Linked DNA regions of Homo sapiens: all the other regions are linked to region 2. Evidence: fine-mapped expression QTL. A gene starts in region 2. Each other region holds a variant in brackets. All regions are shown on one strand. Distances are from middle to middle.

The links. PIP is the estimated chance that this variant, and not a neighbour inherited with it, causes the effect. A credible set is the group of variants that fine-mapping cannot tell apart.
Region 1: its variant is the best candidate, but not a certain one, in a credible set for the expression of ITGA6 in naive CD8 T cells (Schmiedel 2018, PIP 0.82).
Region 3: its variant is the best candidate, but not a certain one, in a credible set for the expression of ITGA6 in subcutaneous fat (GTEx, PIP 0.78).
Region 4: its variant is the best candidate, but not a certain one, in a credible set for the expression of ITGA6 in whole blood (INTERVAL, PIP 0.64).
Region 5: its variant is the best candidate, but not a certain one, in a credible set for the expression of ITGA6 in aorta (GTEx, PIP 0.55).
Region 6: its variant is the best candidate, but not a certain one, in a credible set for the expression of ITGA6 in fetal neocortex (Walker 2019, PIP 0.50).

Annotation. Positions count from the first base shown.
Region 1 is chr2:172,548,824-172,552,912 of GRCh38, forward strand. The region is part of intron 1 of PDK1-AS1 (PDK1 and ITGA6 antisense RNA 1); the gene reads right to left. Among named protein-coding and RNA genes, the nearest start is that of PDK1, 5.2 kb to the right of the region's middle. RefSeq lists enhancers at 8-750, 751-1,492, 3,998-4,089 and a silencer at 3,998-4,089. The variant C/T (reference allele first, on the strand shown) is at 2,009.
Region 2 is chr2:172,425,343-172,429,431 of GRCh38, forward strand. It overlaps ITGA6 (integrin subunit alpha 6), which reads left to right and starts at 2,244. Exons shown (of 26, transcript NM_000210.4): 1 at 2,244-2,628. The coding sequence starts at 2,447. RefSeq lists a silencer at 2,192-2,271 and an enhancer at 3,056-3,556.
Region 3 is chr2:172,309,928-172,314,016 of GRCh38, forward strand. The region is part of intron 3 of LOC107985960 (a long non-coding RNA gene); the gene reads left to right. Among named protein-coding and RNA genes, the nearest start is that of ITGA6, 120 kb to the right of the region's middle. The variant A/G (reference allele first, on the strand shown) is at 1,623.
Region 4 is chr2:172,467,481-172,471,569 of GRCh38, forward strand. ITGA6 (integrin subunit alpha 6) reads left to right here. Exons shown (of 26, transcript NM_000210.4): 3 at 1-80; 4 at 1,645-1,900; 5 at 3,494-3,625. All of the region lies in intron 3 of PDK1-AS1 (PDK1 and ITGA6 antisense RNA 1), which reads right to left. Among named protein-coding and RNA genes, the nearest start is that of ITGA6-AS1, 3.5 kb to the left of the region's middle. The variant C/A (reference allele first, on the strand shown) is at 1,632.
Region 5 is chr2:172,400,771-172,404,859 of GRCh38, forward strand. No RefSeq gene overlaps it. Among named protein-coding and RNA genes, the nearest start is that of ITGA6, 25 kb to the right of the region's middle. The variant A/G (reference allele first, on the strand shown) is at 1,583.
Region 6 is chr2:172,378,989-172,383,077 of GRCh38, forward strand. No RefSeq gene overlaps it. Among named protein-coding and RNA genes, the nearest start is that of ITGA6, 47 kb to the right of the region's middle. RefSeq lists enhancers at 1,551-2,060, 2,061-2,572, 2,693-2,862. The variant C/T (reference allele first, on the strand shown) is at 1,964.

The DNA of each region.
Region 1 (4,089 bases), 120 kb after region 2:
AGTTGGTTTACCCAATGAGCTTCTCCCTTGTAAACCAAAAATAAAATTCGGCTGGGGCAGTGGCTCAGGCCTGTAATCCCACCACTTTGGGAGGCGAGGTGGGCAAATCATCTGAGGTCAGTAGTTCAAGACCAGCCTGACCAACAGGGTGAAACCCCATCTCTACTAAAATTACAAAAATTAGCCAGGTGTGGTGGCACATACTTGTAATCACAGCTACTCGGGAGGCTGAGGTTGGAGAATCACTTCAACCCAAGAGGCGGAGGTTGCAGTGAGCTGAGATCATGCCACTACACGTCAGCCTGGGCAACAGAGTGAGACTCTGTCTCAAAAAATATATATATTCTAAACCCTCCAACCAACTGAATGGACCCCTCCTTTTGGCCAAGAGCATTCCAAAGTTAACCTGAGAAACTAGTTCAGGCCATGATGGGAAGGCGGGGTCAGACATGTCTCATTATTCTGTCCTCCCTTCTGGAATTTAGGTACAGCTGACCAGCATTAACATTAACATAGAGATTTTACATCTGACAAAACAGACTGTTTGTAGCCTAAGATACCAACATGACAAGGAGCAGGTTCTGCAAGAAACTAAAGATTTTATCCCAAAATATATTTCTTGACATATTTTGAAATGGCCCTGCAAAGCTGTCTCTTGTGGGGAAAATCTACATTCTACAGAGAATCCTCTTCCCTTTCCAAGTACTTTCCCTGATTCAGAAGGGAATTAACTAACTCTGGCACCTTTTTAAAGTCTGATAAGAAACAGTTACAAGGTTGGGCACAGTGGCTCACGTCTGTAATCCCAGAACTTTGGGAGGCCGAGGACTCCCAAACTCTGTAAAATATTTGAAGAGATTTATTCCGAGCCAAATATGAGTGACCATGGCCCCGTGACACAGCTCTCAGGAGGTCCTCAGAACATGTGCCCAAGGTGATTGGGGCACAGTTTGGTTTTATACATTTTAGGGAGGCATGAGACATCAATCAAATACATTTAAGAAATACATTGGTTTAGTCCTGAAAGGTAGGACAATTCAAAGTTGGGGCTTCCAGGCTATAGGTAAATTTAAACATTTTCTGATTTACAATTGGTTGAGTTTATCTAAAGACCTGAGATCACAGAAAGGAAATGTTCAGGTTAAGATAAAGGATTGTGGAGACCAAGGTTCTTTTGAAGTTTTATTGTGGCTGCCCTCAGAGACAACAGATGACAAACGTTTCCTATTCAGATCTTTAAAAGGTGCTAGACTTTAAGTTAATCTTTTTAGGATTGGGAGGGCCTGGAAGTAAAAGATCTAGCTATGTTAATAGAGATTCTTTACTGATGCAAATTTTCCCCCACAAAAGACAGATTTGCAGGGCCATTTCAAGATATGGCAAAAAAACATGTTTTGGGATAAAATATTTTGCTTTTCTTCCTTGTCATGTAATGTTATTCCAGAGTCAGGGTGAAAAGTAAGTCTCGATATATAGGGTTAAATAAAACCCATCTGATGAGAATTTATGGTTTGTAGGGCATGACTCCCCAGAACTCTTAGATAGGAATTTGGGCAAGATAAAAAAATCAGAATTTACTCCTCAGTAGCAACACATGACAGATAGCAGGTCCTGAAATAAACTGAAGTGTTTTACTACAAAACATATTTTTTTGACATATTTTGAACTAGCCCTGCAAAGCTATTTCTTCTGGGGAAAATCTATATTCTGTAGAGGATCCCCTTCCCTTTCCAGGTTTTTCCTTTTAAGGTCTGACACCTTTTTAGGTCTGATAAGAGACATTTACTATCTGTTCTCTCTGAAGCCTGCTATGTGGGACCTTTATCTGTGTAATAAGAATCTTGGTCTCCACAACCCCTTGTCTTAATCCAGACACTCCTTTCAATTGATCCTAGGTCTTGAGATAGTAACTTAACTCTTTCAACCAATTGCCAGTCAGAAAATCTTTGACTCTCCCTATAACCTGGAAGCCCCCTCCTGCCACAAGTTTCCCAATCCCCCTATATTA[C/T]GTCTTAAAGTTGTCCTGCCTTTTCAGACCAAAGCAGTGTACGCTTTACATGTACTGAGTGATGTCTGCCTGCAACTTCTGTTCCCCTAAAACTGTACACAATCAAGCTATGACCCGACCACCTTGGGCACATGTTTTCAGGACCTCTTGGGACTGTGCCTCAGGCCTTGGTCACTCACATTTGGCTCGGAATAAATCTCTTAAAATATTTTACAGAGTTTGAGTCTTTTTTTTAAATCAACAGTTCAAATAAATTTTTAAAACTTTTAATGTGCCCAAATTTATCTTTTAACATTACCAGTCTCAGTTTGTGAAAGTCTAGAGTTCTCCCTGTCCATGTCTGTAAATTCTTGAGGCTCATAGTCTCATTTATAGTACCCCCCACCCCACCACCACTCAGACTCTTTGTGTGCAAAGTCTATCTCCATTGCCACAAACTCTCATAAAAAAAATTCATCCTTTCCTCCAATTTTCACAAAAGCACAACACATAAAAGCTTCAGTATCCAATAATCTCTCTTTTTTTGCAAACTTTACTGAAGGTTTGGGTTATAAGGAGTGCTCACATTGTGAACAGTCTTTGCAATCTTCTGCCTCCTCCCCTTCCCCTTTGCTCTACAAAGTGAATTCCTCTCCTTGCTTCCTGTAAAGCTGTTCTGAGCCTTCCCTACAGATCTCTCCTTCCACTCCATCAGCATTTCAAAGCACTTACTCCAGATAAAAACTATGTTTGTGCTAAATAAATCCTGGTGAATAGGATGCCCTCATATCACTACACAAGTAATTACCTGAATCAAAGTACCCTTTAAAGAAAGAAGGCAAATGTATATGGAGAAAAATTATGCTTCAGTGGAATATTACGTATTGTTTAGAGCACAACTTTTCAGGGTATCTGATTCCAATTCACTGTCTTTGAGCTATTTTACAACTCTGTAAATTGCAGATAAATGGTAACAACGCACATAATTCTTACCTATACATGTGCAAATAAATTCTGTCAGGTAGAAGGGCAACCCTCCCTGATTCCCAAGGAAAGAGCCAGTTTTACAGCCTTTGCAAATTTTTCTGAATTCCTGTTTTTTCACTTCTCCTTTGAACTGGCTATAATATCTTTACTGGTTCCCTCATTTAATTAATGTATTAAATAAAATTTTTGACACATGTTCATTTTATAGCTGCATGAGAGTCATTATTTTACCTTTTTTGAAAATTATCTTTCCAGCATATCAAAAAGGGTTCTAGGGCAGGAAATGATAGCACACTCAAAAGGGAAATTGATTAATTAATTAATGAAGGGACTATTTACAGGAGTGTGGGCAGAATTAAACCTCCAGGGCTGGTGAGCACCCAATCAGCAACAGAGAAAAATTAGTACTATCTCTATGGATACTGGACAAGGGTAGGAAGCTATGGCCACACTTAGAGGAACACAAATTATAGCTTGGAAGAAAAGAAGCAGGGGGAAAAAATATGACTTTTCTTTCCTTTTGTCTTCTGAACCTCATGAAGCCAGAGGGTACTGGGGACAAGGTGACACAGTCTAGCTTGTTTTGTATTGCTTTTTCCATTCCTTTCAGTCACATCAGTCCAACATGGATCACAAATTCTCAGTGAATTTACAGGGGCTGGCTCATGTCTGCTATGTAAAAATTTTTTTATAGAAGCTTACAGTATGATTACACTTTATATCTACATGTGTGTCTTAGTCTGTTAGTGGTGCTGTAACAAAATACAGTCTGGATAATTTATAAATGACAGAAATTAGTTTTCTTACAGTTCTAGAGGCTGTGAAGTTCAAGATCAAGATGCCGGAACTCAGTGTCTCATAAGGGCTTTCTTGCTGTGTCCTCATGTAACCATCCAATAGGTTTTTCTTGCCTGCTGACCAGATAGAGCCAATTTATCAAGACAAAGAGTTTAGTGCATGTGGAGCTGGCTAAACAGAAGATGAGTTTTATTACTACTCAAATTAACCTCCTGAAAATTCAGAGGCTAGGGTTTTTTTATAGTTTGGCAGACAGCAGGCTATAGAATGGGGAATGCTGATTGGTTGGGTCAGGAATAAAATTATAGGGAGTCGAA
Region 2 (4,089 bases):
AGCACAATCTGTGTTTGGGATAAAGTAAATAACTCTGGCCATTCATACATCATCCACTAAACACATCTTGGGAAGACAGGAATCAATGGTCCACAGAATTACTCTTAGAAGCAAGGGGTGATATTCAGAATAGTTAACAGCTGGTGTGACATGGGGATATCCAAGCAGAGGGAGCCCTTGCTGCATCAGGGCTTAAGGGCTTAAACTTTCATTTGCCAGGTTGTGAGGAAGTTGCTTAGTCCTAGGAAAATGGGCAGGGCAGGGATGGTTGCCTGTGAGGAACTAAGGGCAGCAGCTTTTATCAACCAATTCAGAATATTTCAGTAACCATTACAGCCAAATCACCAGCTCCTGGCTGAGTACACTCTGCAGTGAGGTTCATTATACTATGCCTATAATAGTCTGGACCCCATCTCTCTGGAATAGTACATATTTTACACGAAGGGAAAAGGCTAACTTGCAACTTATTTGCATGAAAAATCACGTTGCAAGTACTTCTTAGTTTACTAGATTGTCTCCAATAGTTTCTCAACCTTATCAAGATATATTTGTTAAAACTGTGTGCTCTCCAAAATCATCTACTGAATTTAAACCACTGCACCCCACTTTGGACTATAATTGACTGGAGTTACTGATTGGAAAGGAAGTGGTACACACCCCTAATATACTGACGGACTTACTCTGACAGCTGCTACCACCTGTGGGGACCCTTGATGATGTTCACGCAGCTTTTCTGAGTGGCACATGCTGTTCTCTTGAATACTCCTTGAGGTGAAGAAGAGGCCACCCCTACCCCTATGCACACACAGCTCCTGCTCTTTCCTGGGGCTGCACCCTGCTTGTATTTCCAATGCAGGGATGTCAGATTCCAAAGAGGGCTCCCCAAGGCATTCCAGAAGGCTTCAGGCCAGCACGTCCCAACCTTTTCATGCCATGGGACCCCTTTGGCAGGCTGCTGAAAACCATGGGGTTCTTCTCAGAATAAGGGTTTTAAATACATAAAAGAAACCACAAGAGGTTACAAAAAAAGCCAATAATATTGAAATGTAGCTAACAAAATGTTTTTAAAAATTTGTGCTAGAGCAATATATATGCTTCATTATTGACATATAATATCTGGCTGATTGTCTAATAACTACTGTTATTTGAGATACTTGCAACAACTGTGATGTGATGTAAAAACCTATGGTTTCTAGTGATTACTAAGTCATAAATACTTATCCTACTGCTACTGTAGTTTGTTGTCTACGTTCATAATGGCAAAACGTGCTAAATGTCAGAGGTTGGTGAAAATTAAGACGTAAATTTTTTCTCATCCAAGTTCACAGTACTCTTGAATTAATTACCTCTCCTCGGGTTAAGAACCCCTGCAGGATAAGGTTGCCCCTAGGGCCAACACCTCACTGGAGCCCCGCCTCATGTCCTGGAGGCAGGAGCCTTCATGCCACCTACACAGAACTCGGAGCTGTCTCTTGGCCCAGCAGTTCTCCCCACAACTAGTTCTGAAAGTCCGGGGCTAGGAAAGAACGGCATCGTCGCCTGAGCTCCTGGCGCCACTTTAAACAACCCATCCTTGACTTGCGTGACTTCTTCCACAAGCTCTCCTGGTCACCTGGGCAAAATCCTAGGTGATCTGGGGACAAGGCGGAACTTCGGTTTTCTGATCTGCAAAAAGAAACACCTACCTCATAGGACTGTTAGGATGAATTGAGGTAATGGCTGGGTTGTGTACATTATACAGCACTATCAAGGTGTGCGCTGTGATCATTTTTGAGGGTTGTTAGGTGTTTGAGGACCCAGAACAGTCTACACAGCTGTAGTCCCCAAGTGTTGGGCACGCCTTAAGCGCTCCATAAACACCTGTAGAAATGAATGAATGACGTATGCATCTGCACGTGGGCCCACATCTGCAAGAACAGGCTGCTCAGGCCATGAGGCCCGGTGCATCACCTGCACTTCTCTTTATAACGGGTAGTAAAGTCTCCCTCGCTCTGTGCTACTCGGCAACCACAATTCTGTCCACAGAGGGCGGCGCAGTGGGGCTGCTTCGCCGCGAGCTCGCCTCCGGGGCTCCCACGTCGTGGCTTCCGGGCAGGTACCGGGCAGCTGGAGACGCCAGAGCCGGCGGGTAAGGTGCGGGCGGTGCGCCGGGCCGCGGGCGCGCAAGGAGGGGCGAGAGGGTGGGGAGGGGCGGGGCCGGCGTCCTCGTCACTTGATAAAACGCCTGCGAGTCTCCAGAGAACAACGGGCTCATTCAGCGGTCGCGAGCTGCCCGCGAGGGGGAGCGGCCGGACGGAGAGCGCGACCCGTCCCGGGGGTGGGGCCGGGCGCAGCGGCGAGAGGAGGCGAAGGTGGCTGCGGTAGCAGCAGCGCGGCAGCCTCGGACCCAGCCCGGAGCGCAGGGCGGCCGCTGCAGGTCCCCGCTCCCCTCCCCGTGCGTCCGCCCATGGCCGCCGCCGGGCAGCTGTGCTTGCTCTACCTGTCGGCGGGGCTCCTGTCCCGGCTCGGCGCAGCCTTCAACTTGGACACTCGGGAGGACAACGTGATCCGGAAATATGGAGACCCCGGGAGCCTCTTCGGCTTCTCGCTGGCCATGCACTGGCAACTGCAGCCCGAGGACAAGCGGCTGTGAGTTCCCAGACCCTTCCCACCCCCACTGGGGCGCCGGCCTGCGCGCGAGTTGAGGCGAGGGCGCGCCCTGTTCCCGCCGGCCCCGGGGAGTAGTTGGCCCGTGGGTCGCGCCCGGGCCGGCCGAGGCGCACCCAGCGCCCAGCGCGCTCGGCTCCCCGCCCTGACCCGCCCCGCGCGGCGCCTCCCTCCATTCAGCTCGGGAAGGAGGAGAACCCGAGGGCTAGGCTGGGCCCCGGGAGAGTTTACTTTTTTTTCTGTTTTAAACAAAGTGCTTTCCGCCGGTTCTTCCCTCCGGGCGTGTTTGCTGGGACCCCGGCAGGTGGCACGCTTTGCTGAGCTTCACGTGTGTGTTTGGGGCTGGGGTGGCGTTCAGGGTCACCGCAGCGCTGCTGTGGGTTTGCAGGGAGCGTAGTTCCAGGATGGTCTAGGCCTTTCCCAAACTCACGGTGCACCCCGTCTCCCCCGCAGACTGGCGCGCCCCGCACAAGTTGGAAAGCCACTTTCCATGTGTCCTGCATGACTTTCTCAGCAAGGCGGGGGCGCTCCTTAGGAGATACTTTTACATGCCTTTGAAAAAAAAAAAAAAAAAGATGGGGGTGGGGGCGGGAATTAACCAAACACCTGTTCGCTGGACTAGATCAGCTGAGAAAACAAGTCTGAGTGATGTGCCCAGCCCCCAAAGTACTCGGCCGCACCCGAGACCCGCTCGGCTCCTGCGTTGGGCGGGCACAGCCAAGGGGTTAAAGCAAAATGTCCGATCTGAGCCTGGACTTTGCAAACAAGGTTTGTAAGGGACAACCCCCCACCGTAGCGGTAAACCTCCCAGGAGAAAGAGGAGACCGGCACTACTGGCCTCTCCTTTTATTTCTTAAACAGTGTTTGGTTCCCACATGATCGGCTATTTAAGCCGGAGAGGGTATTTTGGCGCTTAGTCGCCTTAATCGCTATGGGGTTGCATTCTTCATCTGTGCTACTGAAAAATAGGCTGTAGCAACAAAAGGTCTCCCCTCCCCACCCAGGCCTTGAGTTGAACTAAGGACCTTCCAGGACCAACAGACCGGAGAAAGCAAAGTGCAGCCACAGTGAAGAGATTTTGTGTTTAGGAGAGGCGAATGGGATTTTAGAACTGGAGGAAACCTCTTGATTTCAGCGGTTAACAACTTTGGAATTCGTGAATGTTGCAGCCCCTGAATTTTAGTCAGTTTTTTTTTTTTTCTGATAACACCTGCTAGGTGAAGCACAGAAATTAGCTGGGGGTGGGGAGGCTCTAGGAGGGTGGTCTGAGGCTATATGCCTGGCCAGCTGCTTATACTCTGCTTTCTCTCAGAAATAATTGTTGTTAAGCTGTAAATCTGAAATGAAAGGTTCCTGTTAACTCAGTTAATAGATGACGTTTATTGTCTCGGAATACTTGGTGTGTAGAATTTGAGCTTGTTAGTGCAGAAATGATTGTGGGCC
Region 3 (4,089 bases), 120 kb before region 2:
CAACATTCATGGGGCTATTTCTCAGGAACCATATCTACTTCTGAGTCTTTAAATGCTGAAGAGGGAGAGGATCTCTAGGTCATCAGGACCTCAGATGGGGTTTGTTAGTATTATTTGATACAATGATTATCACAATGGAAATTTCTTACGTCTTCAACACTTCACAATTTATTATTTATTTTTACTTATTTATTTGTTTATTTATTTTTGAGATAGAGTCTTGCTCTGTGGCCCAAGCTAGAGTGCCGTAGCCTGATCCTGGCTCACTGCAGCCTTGAACTCCTGGGCTCAAACAGATCCTCCCACCTCAGCCTCCCAAGTATCTGAGGCTATAGGTACACACCACCATGCCCTGCTAATTTTAAATTTTTTTTTTGTAGAAACAGGGTTTCTAAACATACAAAAATTAGCATGTTTCCCATGCTAATTTCAAACTCCTGGGCTCAAGTGATCTCCTGCTTTGGCCTCCCAAGTGCTGGGATTACAGGTATGAACCACCACGCCTGGCCTACTTGACAATTTCAAACCCTTTCAATTTTATTGTCACATATTATCGTGTGTACTTCTTATCTGTATGTCTGGGGAGACATATTTTTAAATCTTATAAAAATCAGATGACCTTGGCAAAATGTGGTGGCTCACAATTTTGGGAGGCCGAAGCTTGAGCCCAGGAGTTCAAGACCAGTCTGGGCACCATAGGGAGAACTCATCTCTATTTAAAAAAAGAAAAAGAAAAACGTGGGTGTGGTGGTATGCTCCTATAGTCCCAGCTGCTCAGGGAGCTGAGGCGAGATGATAGATTGAGCCCAGGACTTTGAGGCTGCAGTGAGCTATGATCGTGCCACTGTACTCTAGCCTGTGCGACAGAGTGAGACCCTGTCTCAAAAAGAAAAAAAAAATAGGCTTTGTGACTTGTCTGAAAGCCATATTTTTAGAATTAAGTACCATGTTGCATGTACTCGACACATTTATTGCATACCGACTATATGCTAGGCACTGTAGAAGGCACTGGAGATACAGAGATGGAAAATTATGATCCTTCTCATATTCAGTGCATCGATACAAAGTGATGAGGACTCTATTAAAGGTGTCATTAACAGCTCTGGGAGCAATAAGCAAGAGGGCTTGATAATGCCTGGAGAGATATGAGGGAGGTGTTAGACCAAGGTGATGGTAATGTGGATGAAGATGGGGATGGTGGTGATCTCATCAGCAATATACAGTGCTTACCAAGTGCCAGGCACTGTTCTGGGTGTTTGCACATATTAACTCACTTGATCCTCACAACCACCCTATGAGATAGGGGCTCTTAATATTTCCATTTTACAGATGAGGAAAAATGAGGCATGCAGAGAGTAGGTAAATTGCTCAAGATTGCACCAGCAAGTGGTAGACATTGTCTACTATTTCTTGAATTTCTGAAACTCAAGAGCAAAACAGCAATGATAATATTGGCAAAGAATGGGGTCATCTGCTGCCACCAAAACCCACTTTCCCTGGCCCCCTTTCTGAGGTGCAGCCCATTTATTTCTTGAGCCAATCCTTGAGTTTGGCAGGGCCCTTCCTGTCCACACGATGAACCTGGTTTGTGGCACTGGCCCCATGTATCCAAACGGTCCACC[A/G]TGGACAGAGGGTCATGGTTAAGATCTGGGATTTCAAATCAGACAAACATGGGCTGGACTTCTGGTTCTGTCCATTCTCAGCTATATGATCTCTGAGCCTTAGCTTTACCATCTGTAAAATAGAGATAACAGCCATGTCTGTGCCTCTGTGGCCTTTCATGTCAGCAGCTTTTTGCCCACCCCACACCCCTCACACAAGACGAGGCCCTTGAACTAAACAGACACTGAAAGGAAGGCAGCCTGGAGGCCTGTGGAGCTCCCTGGCATGATTGGAGCCATTGTTCTGTCGCTGGGGAGGGCCTTCTGGAAGAGAGGGCAGAGGGCTGCAGCACCTTTGGTAGACATCTGCCTCAGAGATTTCTTCTGCCTTGCTGTTTGGAGACATAAGCTTTTCCTTCAGAGGGTGAAGTAAGTGGAGATGAAAGAAGCTACTTCATGGAAACAACAGTTGTGACTGGCAGGAGGGCTGGCAAGAGGCCTGGAAGTAGGCTCAGCCCAGGGTTGTGTCCCTGGGGTGCACCTCAGAGAACTTGGGCCAACAGCATGCTCTCTGTTTATTCAGGAGTTTCCTCACTGAACCCTCTGAGGAAACAGCTTTGTAAGGAAAGGGAAAACATATGGGTGAGACAAGGTACTCAGTGGCCCAATGGAGCCCAAGTGGCTGCCTACAAATTGGCTCCTACCTTGATACCGAGGGGGAGAGGATCCCTCCGGTTCCTGCCCTGCATGGGCTCAGGGCCAGTTGTATAGTGCCAGGCCCTTGTGAGTGGCTGGCCTATGGCCACTGCCTTCTGGGAGACCTGGTACCTTTAGGGAGGTCCATTTACTCTTCCAGGCCTTTCAGGCCCCTTCAGTCGTTTCTGAGAGGCATTAACTTGCCTGTTTGTAACAGAAATATCCATCTCTTCACTCACTTTGCTCCACCTCTTCTTCATCCTTGGTGGGAAGAGGTTTTAAAAGCATAAAAATATACCAAAATTATGCTGTGAAATGTTATAATATGAGCAGGCGAGACGTTTGTTTTTCTAATGAGGGCTTTACTTGGAAAAAAGAATTGGCTGGGCGTGGTGGCTTACACCTGTAATCCCAGCACTTTGGGAGGCCGAGGTGGGTGGATCGCCTGAGATCAGGAGTTTGAGACCAGCCTGGCCAACGTCGTAAAACCCCGTTTCTACTAAAAATACAAAAATTAGCCGGGCATGATGGAGAGTGCCTGTAATCTCAGCTCAGGAGGCTGAGGCAGGAGAATTGCTTGAACCCCGGAGGCAGAGATTGCAGTGAGCTGAGATCACGCCACTGCACTCCAGCTTGGGTGACAAGGCAAGACTTCGTCTCAAAAAAAAAAAAAAAAAATTTTATGCCACTTTCCCAGAACAAAGGGCAGACTTCAGGGACCTCATGGCTGTGAGGTCTTGGTGATGCTGGTGATGAGGTCGGTAGGCATGAACAAGGCTGAGGGTGAAAGGAGGGAGGGAGACTAAGGAAGCAAGACTTGCTCATATTCAGAGTTTGACCCCATATGGACTGCAGTAAGTCCATCCTTACTGGAAGTCCATACTTAATGGAAATTATTTTACCATCCTCTGGGCACTCAGCTACCTGTGATCAGCTACAGGAAACATTGGGTCCTTTCGGGAATTGGACTGTGGTGTCTAGGGGAGGATGGAACAACACGGTCTCTCTTGATTCAACAGCCCTGGTGTCTCCCACATGTCAGCAGCATGCTTCATGCGAGAAGAGACCAAGGAGCTGAGTGCCTCACGCTCTTGCTGAGGAGACAGTGTCCACAGTAACAGTCGCAGCGATTGAAGGGCGATAGAAGTGAGAGCCTCCCGTGGGGGTGGTCAAGAGAGGCTTTATAGAGAGGCAGGTCTTCCCCTGGCCTCAAAGAATGGCAGGACAGAAATGGAATGGGATGTAGTGCCCGGCCAGGGAGAGGATCTCCAGGGACACAGCTGCCTAGAGCTGGTTTTAAGTGTGGCTGTAGCAAGGTCTCTGAGGGAGAGCTTAACTCTGCCTTGAGATCCTTCTTTCACCATGGACTACTGGCCCTTGATCAATCAGTGCACACGACTGGACCCAGGACTCAAGGCTAAACTGAAGGGCCTGGGCCAGCCCGGGTTTTAGGGCCCAGGAGATTCTCTGGACTCTGGGCTTCTTGGCATCCTGTTATAGAAGCACCATTTATACATTTATATTGAAAAATAAGCGCGACGGAGGGAGATCTGATGCCCTCAACAAAGCTCAGAAAGACTTTTCTGGTTGAAGAAATAAGCATTGCACACACCACAAGTGCAAAGCCTTCTGCCCAGACCCTTTGCTGGAGAGCTGTGCCGAGCAGAGGGCAGGTGGTTGTGGTGCAGGCTGGGCTGCAATTGGCTGGGCTCAGCATGCAGCAGTGTTCCGAGAGTGTGGGTTCTGCTGGTGCCCAGATGGCTTCAGGGTGCCTGATAAACTTCTCTAGCTC
Region 4 (4,089 bases), 42 kb after region 2:
CTGACCCCACGTCAGAAAGCAAGGAAGATCAGTGGATGGGGGTCACCGTCCAGAGCCAAGGTCCAGGGGGCAAGGTCGTGGTAAGTGTAGAGACACATGTTCATCCTATACTGTTGGACTGCTGGTTATGTGCCAGCACCAGGCTTACAGCAGGGGACAGCAGGGAGCATACATTCTAGCGAACTTACTGCTTTAAAGCAGGAATGGATGTCAAAAAGAAATCAGACTGGGCGTGGTGGCTCATGCCTGTAATCTCAATACTTTGTGAGGCCAAGGCGGGCGGATCACCTGAGGTCAGGGGTTTGAGACCAGCCTGACCAATATGATGAAACCCCATCTCTACTAAAAATACAAAAATTAGCTGGGCGTAGTGGCATGCGCCTGTAATCCCAGCTACTTGGGAGACTGAGACAGGAGAATCGCTTGAACCTGGGAGGTGGAGGTTGCAAGAGCAAAACTCCATCTCAAAAAAAAGAAAAAAAAAGAAGAAGTAATCACGTAATCAAAGCCTTATTTCTCCTGTGATTCCTGATATACTTAGAAGCAATCACACAACCTACTTTTCTTTAGAACTTTCAGATTTAAATAACTTATTAAAGAACCTTTACTAAATATTCCTACAACTCTAGATGGTATTAAAAACAAAACAAAACTAGACATCATTTCTGTCCTTGGAATTTTATAGCTTTATAGATAAGTTAGTAAAAATATGGGCATGGTCTTAGAAAGTAATAACCAGGTAGTTTTAACCTCTTGTTATTTATTCTGAGTTTTTTCAAATAGAAGGGATAGCAAAGAAAAGAGGGTTTGTTAGGTGGATTGGGCTAGATGGTCATGGTAAGGCCTTCCTGGTTGGAATATGATCTTTTTGTCTCCTTCAAAATCTGGTTGCTGTAACGAAATTTATACAGAATTTTGAGAAAAAAAATTTAGTGAACATTGAGTTTTGATATTTAAGGAATGACATTTATGGAAAATTGATTTGATACTGTATTTTTAGGCTGTGTTTACATGGAGGTTAGCCATTCATACCCTGTAGAAATTATAGAGATTATTTCTGTCTCTTCTGGCCTTGTAATTCTCTCTGCCTTTTAAAAGTAGGCATATTTTGGGAAATAATCTCAGAGCTCAGGGTGTAAGTTAGGACTGATTACAAGGAAATAGTGTGGGGAAAAGGAAATGTCTTTGTTTTAGCTGTGTTTGTTTGATCCCTATGAAAACAGGTCCATGATTTCTCTCCTCTAGAACATAATTACCCACTTTCACACTGATGTTCTGAAGGTTTATACAGCCACTAAAAGCCAATTTGAATTAAGAAAATGAAATAAGGTGTTTCTCTTTGTTTATGTGACAGGTAAATTTACAAATAAATTGCCTATGGATACAGATTGTCATTCAATTTTGGATTGGAGGATTATTCTGAGTGAGAATAAGGCACATTCTAGTTTCTATATGTCTTCATAATGGTCTCCTTAGTGCCACTTTGGGGAATATTTGCTGGTCTGGGATCCGGTCCCAAGATGAGGACATGCTTAATCATCCTCTTTAGAATTAACCTCTGTATTGACCATTTTATTCATATGTAATTTTTTAAAAACAAGGTTTATAGACAAGAATGGGCTACTTTCTTC[C/A]ATCTGCTTGCAGACATGTGCTCACCGATATGAAAAAAGGCAGCATGTTAATACGAAGCAGGAATCCCGAGACATCTTTGGGCGGTGTTATGTCCTGAGTCAGAATCTCAGGATTGAAGACGATATGGATGGGGGAGATTGGAGCTTTTGTGATGGGCGATTGAGAGGCCATGAGAAATTTGGCTCTTGCCAGCAAGGTGTAGCAGCTACTTTTACTAAAGACTTTCATTACATTGTATTTGGAGCCCCGGGTACTTATAACTGGAAAGGTATGACCTTTGTATTTATAGAAATAGAGATTAGTTCCCCTAATTTCTGTAATATGATTTAGTACATTTTGAGCTAAAATGTGTTAGAAGACATTCGTATATTATAAAAGTTGGGTAGGATATTAAAAATCTCTAAATGATATGATTTTTAAAAGCTAATAATAGTGGAATATATGTTTTGGTGTTGACATTCTTTTCCCCTCTACCAGTACTTTACTTTAATTCAGGTAGTTAACTTTTTTTTAGCAGGAATATAATAATTAACATTAGTATTTTTTGCTGTTTTAGATTTGTGCGACTCATGAAGCTGGAAGTGTTAATTTTAAGTTAGTGATCTGAAAACTTAGGAGGATTAAATAATGGTATATACAAATAACAGTGTATTAACATGGACATTAATAACAGAGTATTAATATGGACATTTCTCTCTGTATATGTTATTTTCAAAGGCCATGCTTTGCTAATAATTCAGTAGAGTTAGAAGGGCAGATTACAGACGAATTGGGGAATTTTGAGGTATAATTTCAGATATGTGAGGAAAAGTCGTTTGATTATTGTGATGTGAGTAAATGGAGATGTAGAGAGGTAAAGAAGAAAATGGCCCACATTTTTTGACTGTGTATGTATAGAAAATGCTATATCATAAAAGACAACCTAACTCTCATCCATGATGAAGAGAACTGCATCTGATTTGGAAATAAGCCATTTTTGAGAAATGTATTAATAATAAGTCACATAACACTTTCACTCATCAGGGAAAACTTAGGAAAATGGTCCCTTTTCCATTCAACAATTTGTTTTAATTGTGGTTCTAAATGACTCTTGAACACCTTTCTCTGTGTGCAATCTTCAAGGGTAATTTCCCTTTGCCCCCACCTCCACCCCAACAGAATCTTCATGTACAGTATTTCCCAGGTTATTTTGACCTAACTGAAATAACATGTTGAATTTAGTTTTATTTTAGCATGAATAAATGCTTTATATAGTAAAACAAAACAAAAATATCCACCAATTATGTATATTTTAATTCATGGAAAATATGGTTTACCTGCTTTATAAACCTGACCTAAAATGTCGCCATTTAAAGCCATATAGTGATTTGGGCTTACTATATGAAAACTTATGTTTTAAATTACTAATTGTAAGAATTTTTAAAAGATGAAATCTTGGTTAAAGTGATCTAAAGAAAAGATCAATATGTCTCACTTTTACACTGCAAAAAAAAGACAAATTGAGGCAGGATTACAGAGAATGTAAAATATATATATCAAGTTCATGTCATTTAAAAATTGGTTCTCTGTAGATTTTGTTAACTAAGCAAACCTTCCATTTTTCATCTAGTTTCATGGCATTATAAAGATAGTTCATGAAAATGCATGGGACAGTTTTTAATGACTCAAACAAATTTCTTTCCCATAAAAATTTACACAAATGTATTTTACAACCATAAAAGTCATCTCTGTCCTTCCTTTTTTTCCTCCAAATTTTTTTTCCTGTAACTAGTGATAGCATGGGGGATGTTTATTAGGAACCATTTATTTTCTTTTGTTTCATCTTCATTTTTTTGTTGTTTTTACCATTTCATTCCTTTAGGGATTGTTCGTGTAGAGCAAAAGAATAACACTTTTTTTGACATGAACATCTTTGAAGATGGGCCTTATGAAGTTGGTGGAGAGACTGAGCATGATGAAAGTCTCGTTCCTGTTCCTGCTAACAGTTACTTAGGTAGGAGCAGGCACAGATGGCTGCCTTTGCCCACCTTCTCAGATACCTTGTGTGAAACTCCCTCGCAGGGCCTATGGCCCCTGGACTTCTAGGCTGAGAAGAGGCCAGGTGGGGCCGGGCCACTTTTGCTGGAATTTGATAAGCTTGGTGATCTAGAGGCGTTAAACCGACTGATGCCTGGGATCCTTTCCTTCTGACTGGGGCTCCCTCAAAGGGGGAAGAAACCTCTTATCACCTAAAATCATCCGTCCTCCCTCCTGCTCAGAAGTCTGTCTCTTGAGCTAATGGCAGCCTCCGTAACCTGAAACAGGCCGCTCATGCAGCCATGAAAACATGCATGGGTGTTCACAGTAAGCTGAGATCTTTGTTCAGTGCCTCCTTCCAGAGATACTCTTAAGAACTGCATTTAATAAAGTTACTCTTAAGTGGCAAGTCAAGACCTCCAGGTCCTCCCTCTGTGATTG
Region 5 (4,089 bases), 25 kb before region 2:
TGGTGCTTTTTTGCTGGCCTAAACTTTTTGTACCAGTAATTCTTTAACAAATCAGAACCAAATGCATTCTGTGAATGCTATCTAGCTCTCTCTTCCTATATTTCCATTTATGAGTGTTCAGTGTATGTAGGGTCTGGCCATTTAGGAAAGTCAGTTTTGGGCCAGAGTGCCTGTCACTTGAAACCATTATTTTAGTGATTGAAAGTTTTCTTCAATTAATCAGGACCTTTTGGGGTTCAAGTGACAGAATCCAACTCAAATTAGCTTAAGTAAAAGTGGGAATTAGCTCAAATACCAGAAAAGTCCAGGATGGATAGCTGCTCCAGGAGTCGAAATGATGTAATCAAGCTTCACCTCCCACCACTGGTGAAGATGGTTTCAAGCATTCTGGGGCTCACATGCAACCTGCTTAGCAACTCCCACTGAGGAAGAGCTTCTTCACATTAAGTCCACCAGGAAAGTCCTGGGAGAGGACTAAATCATATGCTCACGTGTGAACCCATCACTGGAACTAGAGGTAATGGGCCACCTTGAACAGGCCCAAGTCCTATTCCCACACCTGTGGCAGAGGAGAGGTAAGGGTTAGCTCCAGCTGAACTGTAGGGCCTGAGCCCCTCAAGAGAAAGGAGGTCTCCCTTACAGAAGAATAGGGTGGGTTCTGGGCAGGCAGAAACTACAAATGCCTTACATTTCTTGTTTGTTTTTGGAGACAGGGTCTTGCTCTGTCACCCAGGCTGGAGTGCAGCGGCATGATCTCGGCTCACTGAAACCTCCGCCTCCTGGGTTCCAGTGATTCTTGTACCTCAGCTGGGACTACAGGCACATGCCACCATGCCTGCCTAATATTTTTTATGTTTGGTAGAGACAGGGTTTCACCATGTTAGCCAGGCTGGTCTCGAACTCCTGACCTCAAGTGATCCACCTGCCTCGGCCTCCCAAAGTACTGGGATTACAGGCATGAGCCACTGCGCCCAGCTGCCTCCTACTTTCTTACATCAGACATTGTATTTGTTACATTTGCTTATTTTCCATTTAATTTTCATTTTTGCATTTTGTCTTATTAATGTATGTTCACTTAAGCCACTAAGTAGATTTATAATTAGAGCAGTTTTATAGTTTGACCTTAATCTTTTTTTCTCTGGGGGAAATTTTTTCAGGGCTGTTCTTTTATGTTTCCCTCTGTATTGATCTGCTTTTCTTGATTTGCCAGTCTCTCCCTTTTCATCCTTGGCTCAGTGGTTGATCTTCATTATCCAGGGTGGATCCTGGGCTTCTAGTTATTAACAGCAGTATCACGTGTGTGCTGTGTGCATACAGGCATGCATGGGTGGATGCGTGTGTGTGTGTTGTTTTGAATCTTGACCATCTTCAAATGTCACTTCTAATGACTTGAGTGAGCTGCCTTGTTCCACAAGGCCTGCTTCTGAGAACCCCCAGGTGCATGTGGTCTGGGTGCTCACTGGGGGTGTTTAGGGAAGGAATGCTGATTCTCTGTTCTCACACCACCAAGCATTTGCATTTACTGTTATCTCTCTCTAAAATGCCCTTGCCTGGTCTATTTCTACTTGTCCTTCAAGTGGCT[A/G]ATCAGGCCTCACTTCCTCCAGGAAGCTCCTGGGCCATCCAGTCTGGGCTGGGAGAGGGTTTTTTCCTAATAAGACAGTGCAGCCATTTATAGAGTCAATTGTTTACTGCTGGAGTCATTTCCGATGGTGAGTTAAAGATCTTGAGTATTACCTATGGTTAGAGCCCCTCCTCTGAGTTCCACTGCATCCCATATATATCCCTATTTGCTCATTATCATGCTGTTTGGCATGCACCTGTTTGTTTATCTTGCTCTCCTAGTAACAGGTGAGCCCCTTGAAAATAGGGACTTTATTCCTAGTATCAGAGCTTAATAAGCCTAGGATAAATGTTTGGGGAGTAACCCACCGCCTCCACTCAGAGCCTCTTACTCTGCTGCAGTCCCTGCTGTTCCCAGCACACATCCATTACTGCATCATTGCTATTTGTTTGTGTGTCTCATTTTCCCCATTGCATTGTAAAGTTCCTTGTGCTAACCAAGTGGTCTTTATTCATTTCTGTTATCTGGCCCATAGTACAATGCCTGGCATATATAGAAGGTGCTAAATCAGTGTAGAAAAAATATTTTTAAACGTATGTCTCTTTAACTACTCAGAGTGGCAGATTATTATATACCTTTTTGTTTGTATCTTCTGGAGTGCTTGGCTTGTTTAATGTGACTTTTGTCAACACTTGGTTTAGATATTCCTTAAACGTCCTCGGGTACCAGACTGTTTAGTTGCACAACTAGACTTCTGTTACTCTTCATATTAGGAGGAGAATAAACTCAGAGACAATGAGCACAATCTGGGCATTTTGTCGGTCCCACAGTCCTATCATATCCTGGGATATGTCTTTATTAGGCACCTTGTGGAGAGTGCCCAAGCCTTTCAGTGAGCTGGGATTCTCAGACCTCAGACGGGTAATACAAGGGAATGGGGCTGGATTTGGGATCCATCAATGAGGGCAGTGGTAGGTCTGCATCAAGTCCACACTTGTAGGTGGAGAATCCAGAAGCGAGAAGAAGCCAGAGGGAGCCCTGAAAGGGGGTACTGGAAAGACTCCCAGAGACAATGGGATGCAGCAAGGGCCTTGTCGCTGCACACTCACGATTGAGTCTATGGGTGGAGAGGGATTGTCTGGGGCCATGAGTGAGCTCTGAAGTAAACAGAAGGAAGCTGGCTCTTGGCTACATGCAGTGGCAAGCCAGGGGGCCACCACAGACACGCCATGTGTGTCAGAGGATATGGATGGAGTAGGCGGAATACCCAAGACAAATGTACCCTGAACTGGTCTCAGCCAGGCTGTCTTTGGGGCCCAGGGTGGAGGCCATGCATGTAGAGACAGGCTGCAAGATAGGGGTTGTTGCTCTCTTCTGTGTTCTGAGCAGCCTGGATTCTGACAACAGTGCTCCTCCTCATCCTAGAAGGAGGCAAAGCCAGCTCAAATAAATCTGATGAATAATGTGTCAGCTGCCATTCAGATAAAAGAGCACAGACCAAGCCTGGCTATCCAGTCAGTAATTCACATTCACTGGGTGGCAGTGGGCTCACAACCTGTGCTGGACAAACTGAGGAAGATCGGGACAAAATGCTAGAGAAGAGAAAATGGGAAAGCTCGCATCTACTTTTTTATAATTGCAAGTGAGTAAGATTTCTGAGTATGGAGAAAACAGACTTGAACCACTTTCCTCTCGGAAGGAGACACTTTCTTTCCCAGCCAGTTTACGTCAGAGTAGAAGATGAGGCTTTGATAAAACAATGTCTTTATTTCCTATGTACATTTCTTTGTTCTGAAAAGAGCACTAATGTGTTTTCATGTTGGGTTCAAAGAAGAGATTGTCCTGGAAAAGTCACAGCTCCTTTGGAAGGGCAACCAGGATGTAAAATCATTTCTACTAAATCTTCACCCCGCCAAGCTGAGAATTGAATTTCCTGAACCAGAGTGAACTCTGTGGCTCAGGTGGTTTTTAATTAAAGCAATTTATATTCAAAGAATGTGCACACTTGCAGGCTCACACAAAATCAATGAAGTCAAGAGGGGAAGCAGAAAAAACTGTAATTGAGAAGCACTTATGTGGCAGGGCAAAAAAATTTTTTTTTAATTTAATTTTTGTTTAAAATATGTGTATACATGGCCTACTATCAGCCAAAATTCAAAATGTATTGCATGCTATTTACTATTTTCCCCCTTTCCAGCTCTACTCCTACAAAATAAGGCTAGGTTTCATCCTAGATTAGGCACTACTACTTATTTTTTCACGTTTTAACAAGTATAGAGTTTGAATGTCTAGAACCCATGGAATAATTTGCTGCCACTTTCTTTCAAGCAACTCAATGGGAATGAGTTATTAATCAGTGTCCCCTGATGCAAGCTCCACCGTTTTGTCATTTTCATGAAGTTTGCTGGCATATAAATATAACCCCCACATTCTTTTATGAAATACATAAATGCAATAAAATAGTTGCTTTGGTTCTTTTCTGGAGGCAGAAGGAGAAAAATGTCAAACTCTCATTGTTCAGTGTTTCT
Region 6 (4,089 bases), 46 kb before region 2:
TTCCCTGGGCTCAAACTATATAAGAGACAATTGTCCCAGAGGAAATGCAAGGGTATGCATTTACCATGAGGTCCAGAGGATGGAGAGGCAAGTTCCTGAGTGATGCAGGGGAGGGGCAGACAGAACTGCAGTTTGAAGGTGGTTACCCAACACCAGGGGTCTCCAGGTGGTTCCCCAGGTGGAAGCCAAAGGATGGCTGTTCCTTTCACCAGCTGGGGAGCCGAATGGCACTACTTTCTGCCCATTCCTGGATCAAGCGCTCCCTATGGCCAGTCCCCATGATGGCATTGTCTTTGAATCCCTGGACATCCTATTTCTGGAATGTCTGCCCAGTTTCCTATGGCCTTGAGCATTTTCTTCCCTGTGTTGTAGAGAGGTAACTCAACCCAGTCATCTATTGTACTTTTCCAGCATTGTCTGTGAAGTAACAGAGATGAAACTAAGAAATGTGTGTGGCTGACATGGTGCCAGAGGGTCTCCACAGCCATGCATGCCTTTGTCCAGACTAGTGGGCATTGCTAGGCCTGAGATACTCGTGAAGGTCCTTGTATTAGTCCATTCTTATGCTGCTGTAAGGACATAACCTGAGACTGGGTAATTTATAAAGGAAAGAGTTTTAATTGACTCGAAGTTCCACACAGCTGGGGAGGCCTCAGGAAACTTACAATCATGGTTGAAGAGGAAGCAAACATGTCCTTCTTCACAAGGCGGCAGGAGAGAGAAGAATGTGAGCCAAGTGAAGGGGGAAGCCCCTTATAAAACCATCAGACCGGCCAGGCGCGGTGGCTCATGCCTGTAATCCCAGCACTTTGGGAGGCCAAGGCGGGTGGATCACGAGGTCAGGAGATCGAGACAACCCTGGCTAACACAGTGAAACCCCATCTCTACTAAAAAAAAATACAGAAAATTAGCTGGGCGTGGTGGCGGGTGCTTGTATTCCCAGCTACTCGGGAGGCTGAGGCAGGAGAATGCCATGAATGCAGGAGGTGGAGCTTGCAGTGAGCCGAGATCACGCCACTGCACTCCAGCCTGGGCAACAGAGTGAGCCTCCGTCTCAAAAAAAAATAAATAAAACCATCAGATCTCGTGAGAACTTACTCATTATCATGAGAATAGCATGGGGGAAACTGTCACCATGATTCAATTACCTCCCACCAGGTCCCTCCCACCACATGTGGGGATTATGGGAACTACAAGATGAGATTTAAATGGGGACACAGCCAAACCATGTCAGTCCTCATGGATGGGATCCCCAAGAAACAAGCCAGGGATCTGAGCTGCTGAGAATTCAGACACAGGGATGAGCCCCCTCATCCTTGTTTTAACAAGCCCTGAGTTTGTTAAAAGTCTATGAGAAGCTGCTCATTTCCAACTGCAACTTTCACATATCCACTCATCCTTAAAAAAAGAGTAGATGAAACTCAAACTCAAAGAGCTGGGCTCTTTCATGCCAAAAGTTCCCCAAACCTGTGAAACCCTTCCATGCAGCTTTCTCCACTGGCAGGACTTTGCACTTGGAGGTGATGACCCTGAGCTTGCATCATTTGTGATTTCTATTTAAAGGCAAACCCCAGACAGAGAAATATTTGCCATAAATTGTTACAGCAACATGACATATGGCTTTTCTGCCACTAAGGTCACACTGCCATCGGCCTCTCACTTCCTCCTCAATTGCTTGTTCATTCCACAAGGTTTCCTCAATTTCAGCAATTCTTGTGGTGCAGATCTGCCTGCCCAGCCATTTATCACCAGTAATAACAAGGAGAGTTGTGATGTTTTACATCTCTACACAATGATCTGAGTCTTGGAAGGCTTCCCAAACCCCCTTGCCCCTCTGCCTGGCCAGGCAGGGCCTCTTTTCCTTTCTTAGTGTGACATATCAGCAGTTTAGATGCAGGGCTCTCCCGCTGGGTAGGAGCTTGTAGGTCACAGCGACATCCAACAGATTCATTAACATAGCAAT[C/T]GCAGGAGAGAAAAGAAGCCCAGGCGATTCTGGTGAATGCTGAGCCTTGTTCTAAATTCTCATATAGAATCTCCATAGAACCAGGAAGGAGGGAGAGATCTGAGGCTCTGTTTTGCAAAAGAATTTCGGAGAGCCACCAGCTTGGAAATGAAGCTTATCAGGATGGAAAGAAAGCCACGCATTGCAAAGCCCTCCTGCAAACAAGCTCAGCTCTGGGGAGAAGGATATTAACTAAAATAACAGCACGTGGTAGTCAACAAGTTCCCTAGCTGTGCCTTCACTGAAGCAGGTGAAAGTATTTTAAAATGTTGAATGAAGTGGGGGGAGGGGAACCCAGATAAAGCCAAGAATTCCTTTACTCTCTGCCAGTGGTTCTGTGAATTATTCCGTTGGAATACTGTGCCTTCTCTCCAGCCCTGTGTTTCAGAATCAGGGGACCTTCCTGCAACCTACGGACATTTCCATAGATTTTGATGAACCTACCCTGGTGTCAGGGGTGGGCAGAAGGATGTGTTAATCAAAAACAAACTGAAAAAATGCATCTTTTGAGGAAGCAGGTCTGTGTGCCTTCATCCATCTGCATCTTGCCTGTGAGTGGCCTTCTAGACAGGCACCCATAGCTGGCTGACACAGTGGCCTATGAGTGTTTGCCTGTCAGGGATAACTCTGGGGTAGTCCACAGCCAACAGAAAGCCTCCACACTTAAGGAAGGTCTGAGCAGTGGGCCATCTTGAACTCATAACCACATTTAGGGAACAAAAGCTATGCATAGAGATTTAAGGAATTAAAAACTCAGAAAAAAAGAACAACAATGGGATTGAAATGAGAGGGGACTGCTTTTTGCTACTGTCAAAGGCATGTGAACCAGAGCAGCTCCATCTTGAATAGGAGCTGGGCAAAATGAGGCTGAGACCTACTGGGCTGAATTCCCAGACAGTTAAGACATTCTAAGTCACAGGATAAGACAGGAGGCAGCACAAGATACAGGTCATAAAGACCTTGCTGATAAAACAGGTTGCAGTAAAAAAGCTGGCTAAAACCCACCAAAACCAAGATGGCCACGAGAGTGACCTCTGGTGGTCCTCACTGCTACACTCCCACCATCACCATGACAGTTTACAAATGCCATGGCAACATCAAGAGGTTACCCTATATGGCCTAAAAAGGGGAGGCGTGAATAATCCACCCCTTGTTTAGCATAGCATCAAGAAATAACCATAAAAATAGGCGGCCTGGAGCGGTGGCTCACACCTATAATCCCAGCAGTTTGGGAGGTCGAGAAGGGGGGCGTTGATCATGAGGTCAACAGATCGAGACAATCCTGGCCAGCATGGTGAAACCCCATCTCTACTAAAAATACAAAAATTAGCCAGGTGTGGTGGCAGGTGGCCTGTAGTCCCAGCTACTGGGGAGGCTGAGGCAGGAGAATTGCTTGAACCCAGGAGGCGGAGGTTGCAGTGAGCTGAGATTGCACCACTGCACTCCAGCCTGGGCGACAGAGTGAGACTCCGTCTCAAAACAAAACAAAAATAGGCAACCAGGCTCACGCCTGTAATTCCAGCACTTTGGGAAGCCAAAGCGGGTGGATTGCCTGAGATCAGTAGTTCAAGACCAACCTGACTAACATGGTGAAACCCCATCTGTACCAAGAATACATAAATTAGCCAGGCATGGTGGGACACACCTGTAGTCCCAGCTACTGGGGAGGCTGAGGCAGGAGAATCGCTTCAACCTGGGAGGTGGAGGTTACAGTGAGCCGAGTTGGCACCACTGCACTCAGCCTGCACAACCCAGCGAGACTCCGTCTCAAAAAAAGAGAAAAAAACAGGCAACCAGCAGCCCTTGGGGCTGCTCTGTCTGTGGAGTAGTCATTCTTTTATTTCTTTACTTTCTTAATAAACTTGCTTTCACTTTACAGACTCACCCTGAATTCTTTCTTGCATGAGATCCAAGAACGCTCTCTTGGAGTTGGGATCAGGACCCCTTTCCTGTAATACTACAACTACTTTTTTGGCCACAAATTTCAGAAAACTTATATAACTGTTCTTTGGGTTTTTTTTTAAAACTTTTATTTTAGGTTCAACGGTACATGTGCAGGTTTGTCATATAGGTAAATTCATGTCATA